Linked DNA regions of Homo sapiens. The protein of the gene in region 2 interacts with the protein of the main gene of each other region in a pairwise test. Each region holds a gene or a part of one and is shown on either strand. Other genes may lie near its edges. The genes, in order: ATRIP, FAM156A and TEX11.

Evidence for each region.
Region 1: the proteins of FAM156A (region 2) and ATRIP interact in binary tests that used the Homo sapiens proteins (3 or more experiments, as listed by UniProt).
Region 3: the proteins of FAM156A (region 2) and TEX11 interact in binary tests that used the Homo sapiens proteins (3 or more experiments, as listed by UniProt).

Annotation. Positions count from the first base shown.
Region 1 is NC_000003.12:48,456,586-48,460,237, reverse strand, and holds part of ATRIP (ATR-interacting protein), read right to left. Parts: intron 2,980-3,652; coding exon 2,822-2,979; intron 880-2,821; coding exon 784-879; intron 452-783; coding exon 322-451; intron 129-321; coding exon 1-128. UniProt on the Homo sapiens protein: Required for checkpoint signaling after DNA damage. Required for ATR expression, possibly by stabilizing the protein.
Region 2 is NC_000023.11:52,952,017-52,955,668, forward strand, and holds part of FAM156A (protein FAM156A/FAM156B), read right to left. Parts: intron 3,231-3,652; 5' UTR 3,138-3,230; intron 1-3,137.
Region 3 is NC_000023.11:70,548,626-70,552,277, forward strand, and holds part of TEX11 (testis-expressed protein 11), read right to left. Parts: intron 3,622-3,652; coding exon 3,501-3,621; intron 1-3,500. UniProt on the Homo sapiens protein: Regulator of crossing-over during meiosis. Involved in initiation and/or maintenance of chromosome synapsis and formation of crossovers.

The DNA.
Region 1 (3,652 bases), on a different chromosome or scaffold from region 2:
AGCACTCATTCCGGGCAACCAGATTCAGTCCAGTGAATGCCAGGTTCTGTGCTTCTCTCAGGGCTGAGAGGGAAAATGACCCATCATAAGAACCTGTGGTCCTGAGGCCTGACATTCCAGCCAAGGTACTGGCAACAAACACAAAGAAAAATAGATTAAGTGTGGGATGGAGATAAGGTCAAGAGCCCCAAACAGCCTGCCTGCCAAATTCTCCAGGCTGCCTGCCCTTCCCACAGACTTCTCAGGCTGGCCAGGGCCAGAAAGGAATTTGCTTCCAGGAAGCTCCTTCCCAAACAAGCTTTCCAGGAGTCTTATGCTTACCTGCCAAACCCTGGTGGCTGCAGGGGGGTGCCAGCAGGAGACTCAGAACTACTACTCAGGAGGTGGCAAAGGCTTAGGGATGACCCTGGGATCAAAGGCTGCTTCAGGAGCAGGTTTATCAAAATGGAACCTGCAGAAGACAAGATGACTCTAGAAGGTTCTGACATGGGAGATCTTTTCGGTGGCTTTCAGAAGGAAACAGTAAGGATTCTTTGGATGCCAACTGTCCTCTAGGCTGCCACTAAGCCCCAGGAAGATGCCTGTGGGTGCGGAAGGCTCTGGGACATACCTGCCCTTGGCCCTTTCCACTTTATAAAGTCTTCTGCTTAAGCCACATACTTTGACTTCCCTGGACTCTCTGAAGGACTGCCCGGGGCACCGGTTCTCAGAGGCCTGGGCAATTCTTCTGCATATTACTCAGAGCCATGCAGGCCCCTGCAGGAGAAGCAGGGATTCTGGTACCTTGAGTGTTTGATCTCTGTCTCCAGCTGTCAACAAAGCTTTTCTGGGCCTCTTCTTGTTTTATGGAGTCACCTCTCAGACTGTGGGGCTTACTATCTGAAATGTGATAAAATGTAAATCAAAACTTGAGCCCAGAAGCATGGGCATATTAGAAACTTTTACATGCAATGAGTTTAAAACACACGCTGTTCTACTTCTTCGAACTTGGAACAAACAAGAGCCAAAGCGGCTCAAGAGCCCTGCATCTTTTACCTTCCTTATGTAAAACAGGAACTCATACAAGGAAAGGAAAAGAAAATCAAGCTGTTTGCCTCACTCAAAATGAGGCAATTAGATAAAACAGTGACCACTAACATTGACATGGTGCTTGTTACGTGCTAGACAGTGTTTTAAGAGCTCTATACGCATCAGCCCATTTGTTCCTCAGTGACCCTACAAGGATTTATCATTAGGTCTGTTTTACATATAGGGAAACTGAGGCACAGAGACTAAAGGACTTGCCCAAATCATATAAGCCAGTTAACAGCATTACTGGGACTCACATCCAGGCTACTGGGCTCTACTGCCTGCTTGTAACACTACTGTACACTGCCCCTTTAGCTGCTAGATGCCAAAAATGTAAGTGGGCTACAGTTTCTCAGAAGTGTTATGATGGCCAAGGATTTGAAAGGTTGATGGTAAGAAGAGGGTCAATGTATCCGATTTATAAGATACACTGACATAGCAGTCTGAAAACCTACTGATGTTAGATTGTCTCTCTCTAAAAAACAGCAGATCCCCTCAATCTGGACTGAGTTATAAAAACTCAAAAGCTGGACTACAAAAGGAAAACAGAGGCTGGGCACGGTGGCTCATGCCTGTAATCCCAGCATTTTGGGAGGCTGAAGTGGGTGGATCACGAGGTCATGAGATTGAGACCATCCAGGCCAACATGGTGAAACCTGTCTCTACTAAAAATACAAAAATTAGCTGGGTGTGGTGGCGCATGCCTGTAGTCCCAGCTACTCGGGAGGCTGAGGCAGGAGAATCGCTTGAACATGGGAGGCAGAGGTTACAGTGAGCCGAGATCACGCCACTGCACTCCAGCCTGGTGACAGAGTGAGACTCCGCCTCAAAGAAAAAAAAAAAAAACAAGAAAAGAAAAACAGATTCCTGCATACTAGCTAGGTTTTTGGCATGGTCAATTGATGCTGTGATGGTTTAAAAATATGCCCACAAGCATGATGGCAGGTGCCTGTAATCCCAGCTATTCGGGAGTCTGAGGCAGGAGAATCACTTGAACCCGGGAGGCGGAAGTTGCAGTGAGCTGAGATCGTGCCATTGCACTCCAGCCTGGGTGACAGGGTGAGACTCCGCCTCAAAAAAAAAAAAAAAAAGGCCCACAAATGCTTTGACACAACTCCCCTTCAAAAGGTATAAGCTTGGGAGGAGGGGGGAGGGATAGCATTAGGAGATATACCTAATGCTAAATGACGAGTTAATGGGTGCAACACACCAACATGGCACATGTATACATACGTAACACACCTGCACGTTGTGCACATGTACCCTAAAATTTAAAGTATAATAATAAAATAAAAATAAAAAATAAAAATTAAAAAAAAGGTATAAGCTTGGTTTCTCCCCTTGAATGACGCCCAGACTCAGTGATTTGCTTCTAACAAATACAATGTGGCAGAGGGGATGCTGTGTGACTTCTGAGGCTAGGCCATAAATGGATAGCTTCTGCCTGGCTCGCTCTCTCTGGATTTGCTAGCTTTAGAGGAAGCCACCCACCAGGTTAAGAGGATACCCCATATCCATGTGCAGAGGCCCATGTGGCAAGAAATTACACTGCCAGCCATGTGAGTGAGCCACCTTGAAATAGATCCTCCAGCTTAAGACAAGCTTTCAGTGATTCCAGTCCCTGCAGAGATTGTCCCCTCTGTGCCTTGTCAGAATTGCTGATCACAGAAATTGGGAGAAAATAAATAATAATTGTTTTAAGCCACATATTTGGGTAGCTTGTTATACATCAATAGATGACTAATGGACTTACCCTCTCTGCCCACCAGAGGCTTGTATCCTGACTCCGTCTGGCAGGGGTGGGGAAGGGACATGTTAGCACTAAAAGACTCCTTTGTAGGAAAAGATGTTTTTCCAAATTGTGGAGAACATGCTTCTGGCTTTATAACCACAGAAGGGTTTTTCCTAGGACTGGAAAAAGTTAACTATGAAAGCAAAGTAATGATTCTACTAAAACCATTCAAAATATCTGGTTACAAAATTTCTAACAAACTTTAAACTTTTCATGTCTAGGTGTTTTAACCAAAGGTTTTATCTATTATATGTCTACCATTCTTTGTCAGAGGAGCAGTGCAAAATTCCAGGCATTTGTTTTTCTTTTTAAAAATATTTTAAAATTTTAATTTCTCTATAGAGATGGGGATTCACTAAGTTACCCAGGCTGGTCTGGAACTGCTGAGCTCAAGTGATCCACCCACTCTGGCCTCCCAAAATGCTGGGATTACAGGCATGATCCACTGTTACTGGCTAATTCCAGGGATTTTGATCCAAATTATTGAAAATTCTTTTACTCATTTTTATATTTTTCTAATCATCCAAAAATATAATATTAGCCATAATTCCTTTACTATTCTTTATTATCACTATTTACAATTCCACCAAAACATTTTTTTTTGAGACAGAGTCTTGTTCCATTGCCCAGGCTGGAGTACAGTAGCATGATCATAGCTCACTGCAGCCTTGACCTCCTGGGCTCAAGCAATCCACCCATCTGTAATCCCAGCCTCCTGAGTAGCTGGGATTACAGGCACACATCAACATGGCCAGCTAATTTTTTTTTTTTTTTTTTGGTGAGACAGGGTCT
Region 2 (3,652 bases):
TACCATAGGACCCAGCCATCCCACTCCTGGGTATCTACCCTAGAGAAATGAAAACTTAGGTTCACAAAAAAGCCCGCACTGAATTGTAAAAGCAGCTCGATGCGAAACTGCCCCACACTGGACAGAGGAAAATGTCATTCAGTAGAAGGATGGCTGAACACCTGTGGTCTTCCACACCGTGAAACTGCCTTCATGAAAAAACAACAGCCTGTGACAGAGGCATCTGACACTCATCCGAGATGTTCATCGGGCCAAAAGAAGGAAGCCCGCCTCACAAGGCCACAAACTGTATGGTGTCATTGACATAACACTCTCCCCAAGACAAAACTAGAGGGAAGGAAACAGATCACTTTACACCAGGGATGATGGATGAAGAAGGGGTAACCGCAATGGGGCAGTTCCAGGGAGTGTCCTGCGGTGATGGGACTGTTCTGGATCCCGACTGTGGTGGTGGTGACAAGAATGTATGCCCGTGTCAAAGCTCACAGAACTGTACTCCTGAGGGAAAAAAGTCAATCTTGCTGTAGGTTAAGTGGAAAAACCCAACGGCATATTTTGCGATAAGGGTATCTCTCTGTACTGTTTTGATAAATACATCTTGGATGAGTGCAACCAAAAATTGACATTAAATGCTAAATGGAAACTTTAGATCAGCCTCCCAGGCTCTATTCTTTTGACAAACGTGGAAACCAAGAATTCACTAGTTTTCTTCAGAGGATACTGGTCCTCTGAATGTTTATTCACCAAATCGTGGCTATCAGCCCACACTGGGGCAAGAAAGACAGAACCGTAACAGGAACAGTTTGAATATGTACTGAACACAAACATATATAAACACACACACACACACATCCCAGAAAGAGTTCTTAACTTTTCAGAAATTGCAATCTATCTTTCCTACGAGTTAGTTCCCTGACATCCTTTGGGCCACCACTATCTGACACAAACAGTTAATGTGTGAAACGTTTGGAAAATGATCTTAACCCAATTATCTCCCAGCCAATTCTCATGTGTCACAAGGACTCTCTCAGGATCTATTTCTACATGTAGAAAGCCAATTCTCAGAGAGAGAAAAGACCTTACGACCCCCACCCCCCACGTTTCTTTTGCTGTTTTGTTTGTTTGTTTGAGGCAGGGACTCGCTCTGTTACCTAGTCTGGTGTGCAGTGGCAAAACCTCGGCTCATTGAAACCTCTGCTTCCTGGGCTCAAGGGATCCTCCAGTCTCAGACGCCTGAGCAGCTTGCACTACAGGCGTGAGCCACCATGCCCGGCTAATTTTTGTATTTTTTGTAGAGACGGGGTTTTGCCATGTTGCCTAGGCTGGTCTGGAACTCCTGAGCTCCACATGATCTGCATGCCTCAGCCTCCCAGAGTGCTGGGATTATAGGCGTGAGCCACTGTTCCCAGCCAGAAACACTTTTATGAGAAGAAATGTGAGCCGGGTGTGGTGGCTCATGCCTGCAATCCCAGCACTTTGGAAGGCCGAGGCAGGCAGATCACCTGAGGTCAGGGGTTTGAGACCAGCCTGGCCAACATGGCGAAACGCCATCTCTACGGAAAATACAAAAAAATTAGCTGGGTGTGGTGGTGGGCACCTGTAATCCCAGGTAATAGAGAGGTTGAGGCAGGAGAATCACTTGAACCCAGGAGGCGGAGGTTGCAGTAAGCCGAGATTGCACCACTGCACTCCAGTCTGGGCAACGGAGCAAGACTCTGTCTCAAAAAAAAAAAAAAAAAAAAAAAAAAAAAGAAAAAGAAAAAAAAGAAATAGGAAGATTCTGGAGACATCAACTGACAACCGGCCTGCATAGTCATCGCTCTCTTTTCTCTCTTTCTCCCTCCAGCAATTTTGTGAAATGAAACATTTTACCGTCCTATGTGTAGGTTCATCCAGAGATTCTCAAACCACACCCATGGAGTTGCTCATGATCCCTGACAGAGGCATTAAGGACAGTGAGGCCTAGAGAAGTCCGTTGTGTGTGCGGAGGGGAGCAGCTGCAGCAATACATGTGACTTCCCTTCCTTCATCATCTCACCAATGTCATTTCTTCAACAGGCACTTGCCCCCAGGTAAAAGACCTTGTATCAAAAATCTCTGCATGAAACACCACAGCCTCAAGTTTCCTGCATCATGTCATGCAGCTACCGAAGAGAGAGAAGGACTACTGGAGACAGGGAACCCAGACAGTTTACCGGTCAGACCTTCAGCATGAGAGGTGATGTCTCTGGGTACCAATCCCTCACTGTGATGGTTTTATCGGTCAACTCGGCCAGGCTTGGTGCCTGGTCCCTTTTGGTCAAATGCTACTCTAGTTGTTGCTGGGAAGGTATTTGTGGACATGATTAACATTTACAATCACGCTGGGCACAGTGGCTCACGCCTGTAATCCCTGCTTCGGGAGGCTGAGGCGGGTGGATCACTTGAGGTCAGCAGTTCGAGAGCAGCCTGGCCACCGGGGTGAAACCCCATCTCTACTAAAAATAAAAATTAGCCGGGTATAGTGATGGGTGCCTGTAGTTTGGGACTGCCATGGCCCTTGGCAAGACTTTCACCTCTCATTCACCCTGCATGACTCAGCTGAGATAGCACTTCTCCCAGGAAGCCTTCTCCAAGCTCCTAAAACGCCCTGTATTTCCCCTGTCCCAGCCCCAATCCCACTCAGCTGTCAACAGATGGTTATTTCTCTGTCAACCCACTAGCCCAGGAGCTGACAGAGGCCAGGGACTTTGTCTTGTTCACCCATCACAGAGCCTTGAGCCCAGTGGACATTCACAAATATCTATCAAATGAAACAAGAAGGATGTGGGGCCCGTGATAAACATCTCACTGAGAATGTCAAGTCAACCCTGCAGAATCCATATTTTCCCACGTTGCAAAGGCAGAAATTCCTGCATGGAGAGGTCAAGTAACTTCCCTCAGATCACACAACCACTCAGGGACAGAATTCCCTCCCAGGTCTCCCTGACTGCAGATGAACACACCCCTGGTGGCATTGCCTCTCTGGGTGTTCAGCCTCCCCTGATACCTAAGCGAGAAAGTAATCCTGAGGGAAGAGTTCAGACAGCAGAGTCCTAGGGGCTGACCCGCATGTCCACAGCTGCCCGGGGATCGGGTGCAATGCTGCGAATCCTTACCGTCACTTCCTCCTGGCCAGTTCTGTTCCCATGCCAGAAATGCTGCACCAAACGCACCTCTCACACTCCCCACTCTCATTCGCTTCAATTCTCCTGTGCGGAAGGAGAAAGAGAACAGCTAAGCAAGTGAATCCAGACGACACCCTGCAGATGAGCGCCAGGAAGAGCTTTGTGTTTCTTTTCAAAATTAAGCCAGTCCCATGTGATGCTTTTTTCAATCTTCCACAATAATATGAGATAATAAAATGCATTTATTTCAGTTTAAAGATACAGATTTCATTTAATAATCCCAATTAAATATGGACTTTTTTTTTTTTTTTTGAGACAGTCTCACTGTGTCGCCCAGGCTGGAGTGCAGTGGCATGATCTCAGCTCACTGCAACCTCCGTCTCCTGGTTTAAAGCAATTCTCCTGCCTCAGCCTCCGGAGTAGCTGGGATTACAAGCACCCGCCACCACACCCGGCTCACATTTGTATTTTTAGTAGAGACAGGGTTTCACCACGGTGGCCAGGCT
Region 3 (3,652 bases), about 18 Mb from region 2:
ATCTTGCTTGGAACTCAGTGCTGCCCTGTCACAGCAGAAAGTAACACTGGGCAGAACTCAACTGATGCTCATGGAGGGAGTATTTAGACCAGCCCTAGCTAGAGAGCAATTGTCCATCCCAGTAGTTGGAACTTGAGTTCCAACAAGCCTTGCCACTGAGAGCTAAAGTGCTCTGGGGTTCTAAATAAATTTGAGAGGCAGTCTAGGCCACAAGGACTGCAACTCCTGGGCAAATCTTTGTGCTGTGCTGGGCTTGGAGCCAGTGCATCTGGGGGACATGCGACCTAGTGAGACACCAGCCAGGGCAGCCAAGGGAGTGATTGCACGACCCCTCCCTCAACCCCAGGCAGTGCAGTTTGCAGCTCCAAAACAGACCCCTTCCTTCCACTAGAGGAGAGGAGAGGGAAGCTTAAGGGGGACTTTGTCTTGCATCTTGGATACCAGCTCAGCCACAGTAGGACAGGGCACTTGGCATAGTCATGAAGGTCCCATTCCAGGACCTAGTTCCCAGATAACATTTTGAGACACACCTCGGGCTAAAAGGTACCCACTGCCTTGAAGGGAAGGACCCAGTCTCGGCAGGATTCATCACCTGCTGACTAAATAGCACTTTGGCCCTCAGTGATCAGCAGCAGTAGCCAGGTAGTACATACTGTGGGCCTTAGGTGAGACTCTGAGACATGCTGGCTTCAGTTGTGACCCAGTACATTCCCAGCTGTGGTGGCTATGAGGAGAGACTCCTTCTGCTTGAGAAAAGCAGAGGGAAGAGTAAAGAGGATTTTGTATTGCAGCTTAGATATCAACTCAGCCACAGTGGGTTAGAGCACCAAGTGGGCTCCTAGGGTCCCCGGTTCCAGGCCTTGGCTCTTGGATGGCATTTCTGTACCTGTCCTGGGCCAGAGAGGAGCCCACTTCTCTGAAGTATGAGTCCCAGGCCTGGCAGCATTCACCACAAGCTGATTGCAGAGCCCTTGGGCCTTAAGTGAACACTGGCAGTAGCCCAGCAGAACTCCCCACACCACCTGATGGTGGTGGCCACGGGGAGAGACTCTTCTGCGTGTGGAAAGAGGAAAGAGTGGGAAGGACTTTGTCTTGTGGTTTGGATACCAGCTAAGCTGCAGTAGAATAGAGCACTAGGTAGATTTCTAGGGTTTCTGACTCCAGGCCCTGGCTCCTGCATGTCATCTCTGGGGCCAGGGGGAAGTTGCTGCCCTGAAGGGAAGGACAGCCTGGCTGGCTTCATCACCTGCTGACTGTAGAGCCCTAAGGCATTGAGCAAACATAGGTGGTAGCCAGGTAGTGGTTACAGTGGGCCTTGGGTGAGACCCAGTGCTGTGCTGGCTTCAGGTCTGACCAGCACAGTCCCAGTGGCAGTGGCCACAAGGGTGCTTGTATCACCCCTCCTCCAGCCCCAGGCAGCTCAACATAGTGGAACAGAATAGCAAACCCAGAAATAAATCCATACATCTACAGTGAACTCATTTTTGACAAAGGTGCCAAGAACATACTTTGGGGAAAGAAGAGTCTCTTCAATAAATGGTGCTGGGAAAACTGGATATCCATATGCAGAAGGAGGAAAGTTGAGATCCCTATGTCTTGCCTTATACAAAGATCAAATCAAAATGGATTAAAGACTTAAATCGAACACCTCAAACTATGAAACTACTACAAGAAAATATTGGGAAAGCTCTCCAGGATATTGGAGTAGGCAAAGATTCCTTGAGCAATATCCTACAAGTATGGGCAACCAAATCAAAAATGGACAAATGGGATCACATCAAGCTAAAAAGCTTCTGCACAGCAAAGGAAACAATCAACAAAGTGAAGAGACAACCTGCAGAATGAGAGAAAATATTTACATACTACCCCTCTGATAAGGGATTAATAACCAGAATATATACAGAGCTCAAACAACTCTATAGGAAAAAAAATCTAATAATCGAGTTTTAAAATAAGGAAAATATCTGAATAGACATTTCTCAAAAGAAGACAAACAAATGGCAAACAGGCATATGAAAAGGTACTTACTATCACTGATCATCAGAGAACTGCAAATCAAAACTACAGTGAGATATCATCTCACCCCAGTTAAAATGGCTTATATCCAAATGACAGGCAATAATAGGAAGTGCTGGTGAGGATGTGGAGAAAAGGGAACCCTTGCACACTGTTGGTGGGAAAGTAAATTAGTACAACCACTATGGAGAACAGTTCGGAGGTTCCTCAAAATACGAAAAATTGAGTTACCGTATGATCCAGCAATCCCACTACTGGATATATACCCAAAAGAAAGGAAATCAGTATATCAAAGAGGTATCTGCACTCCTATGTTTGTTGCAGCACTGTTTACAATAGCTAAGATTTGCAAGCAACCTAAGTGTCCATCAACAGATGAATGGATAAAGAAAATGTGGTACCTATACACAATGGAGTACTATTCAGCCATAAAAAAAATAAGATCCAGTCACTTGCAACAACATGGATGGAACTGGAGGTCAGTATGTTGAGTGAAATAAGCCCAGCACACACACAAAAAACAAACTTCACATGTTCTCACTTATTTGTGAAAGCTAAAAATTAAAATAATTGAACTGCTGGGGAGAGAAAGAGTAGAGTGATGGTTACCAGAGGAGGGGTGGGGGAAATGTGGAAATGGTTAATAGGTACAAAAAATAGAATGAATAAGATCTGTACTTAATAGCACAACAGGGTGATTATAATCAACAATAATTTAATTGTACATTTTAAAAAACTAAAAGTATAATTGAATTGCTTGTAACACAAAGGATAAATGCTTGAGGTGATGGATACCCCATTTATCCTGATATGATTATTATGCATTATATGCCTGTACCAAAAAATCTCATGTACCCCATAAGTATGGGTACATGTACACCGCTATGTACCCACAAAAATTAAAAATAAAACATTTTTAAAACTAAAAAACACTGGATTGTAGTGATAGTTGCACAACTCTATAAATTTACTGAATTGTGCACAAGCCATGGGTGAATTTTATGATATGTGAATTATACCTCAAGAAACCTAATTTTAAAACAACTGAATAAACCTGCACAGAAAAGAAAAAGAAATCAGCAGAGGAGGGACTAGAATACAGGTCTTCAATGTTCCTTCTACTCTTCTGAGAAAGGATGCTTCTGAGAAAGGATGGGAATAGCAATAACTTTTTTCAAAAGGTTCATATCATCACAGAGAAAGTAATCATCCCACCATGATTTGAAAATATAAAATAATTCAAAATGCCTGGTGGTACTGCTACTTGGACCTAATCCATAATACACTTGTGTTAGAAAATGTCTACTTTCAACTATTTATATTTCAGAAACCCAGGAAAATTCTGTAGTGTGTAACTACAAAATTGTAATATGAATTTATCCTAAAACTCATATCAGAAAGCATTATTGTATATAATTTATAGTACACAAGACAGTTCAGTTCTTTAAAATTAACTGAAAGTTTAATATCACTATTTGACTTACAGTGCGGCTAATGTGGCTCAGAGCATCTTCAAAATAGCCCCAAACTTCTTCCAGGGGACAGAGCTCTACATTCGACGCCCCATCTGGCACTGAGAGGTTAACCAAGTTGTGCATACATTTGCTGAAAATCAAAAAGAGAAAACTCATCCCAT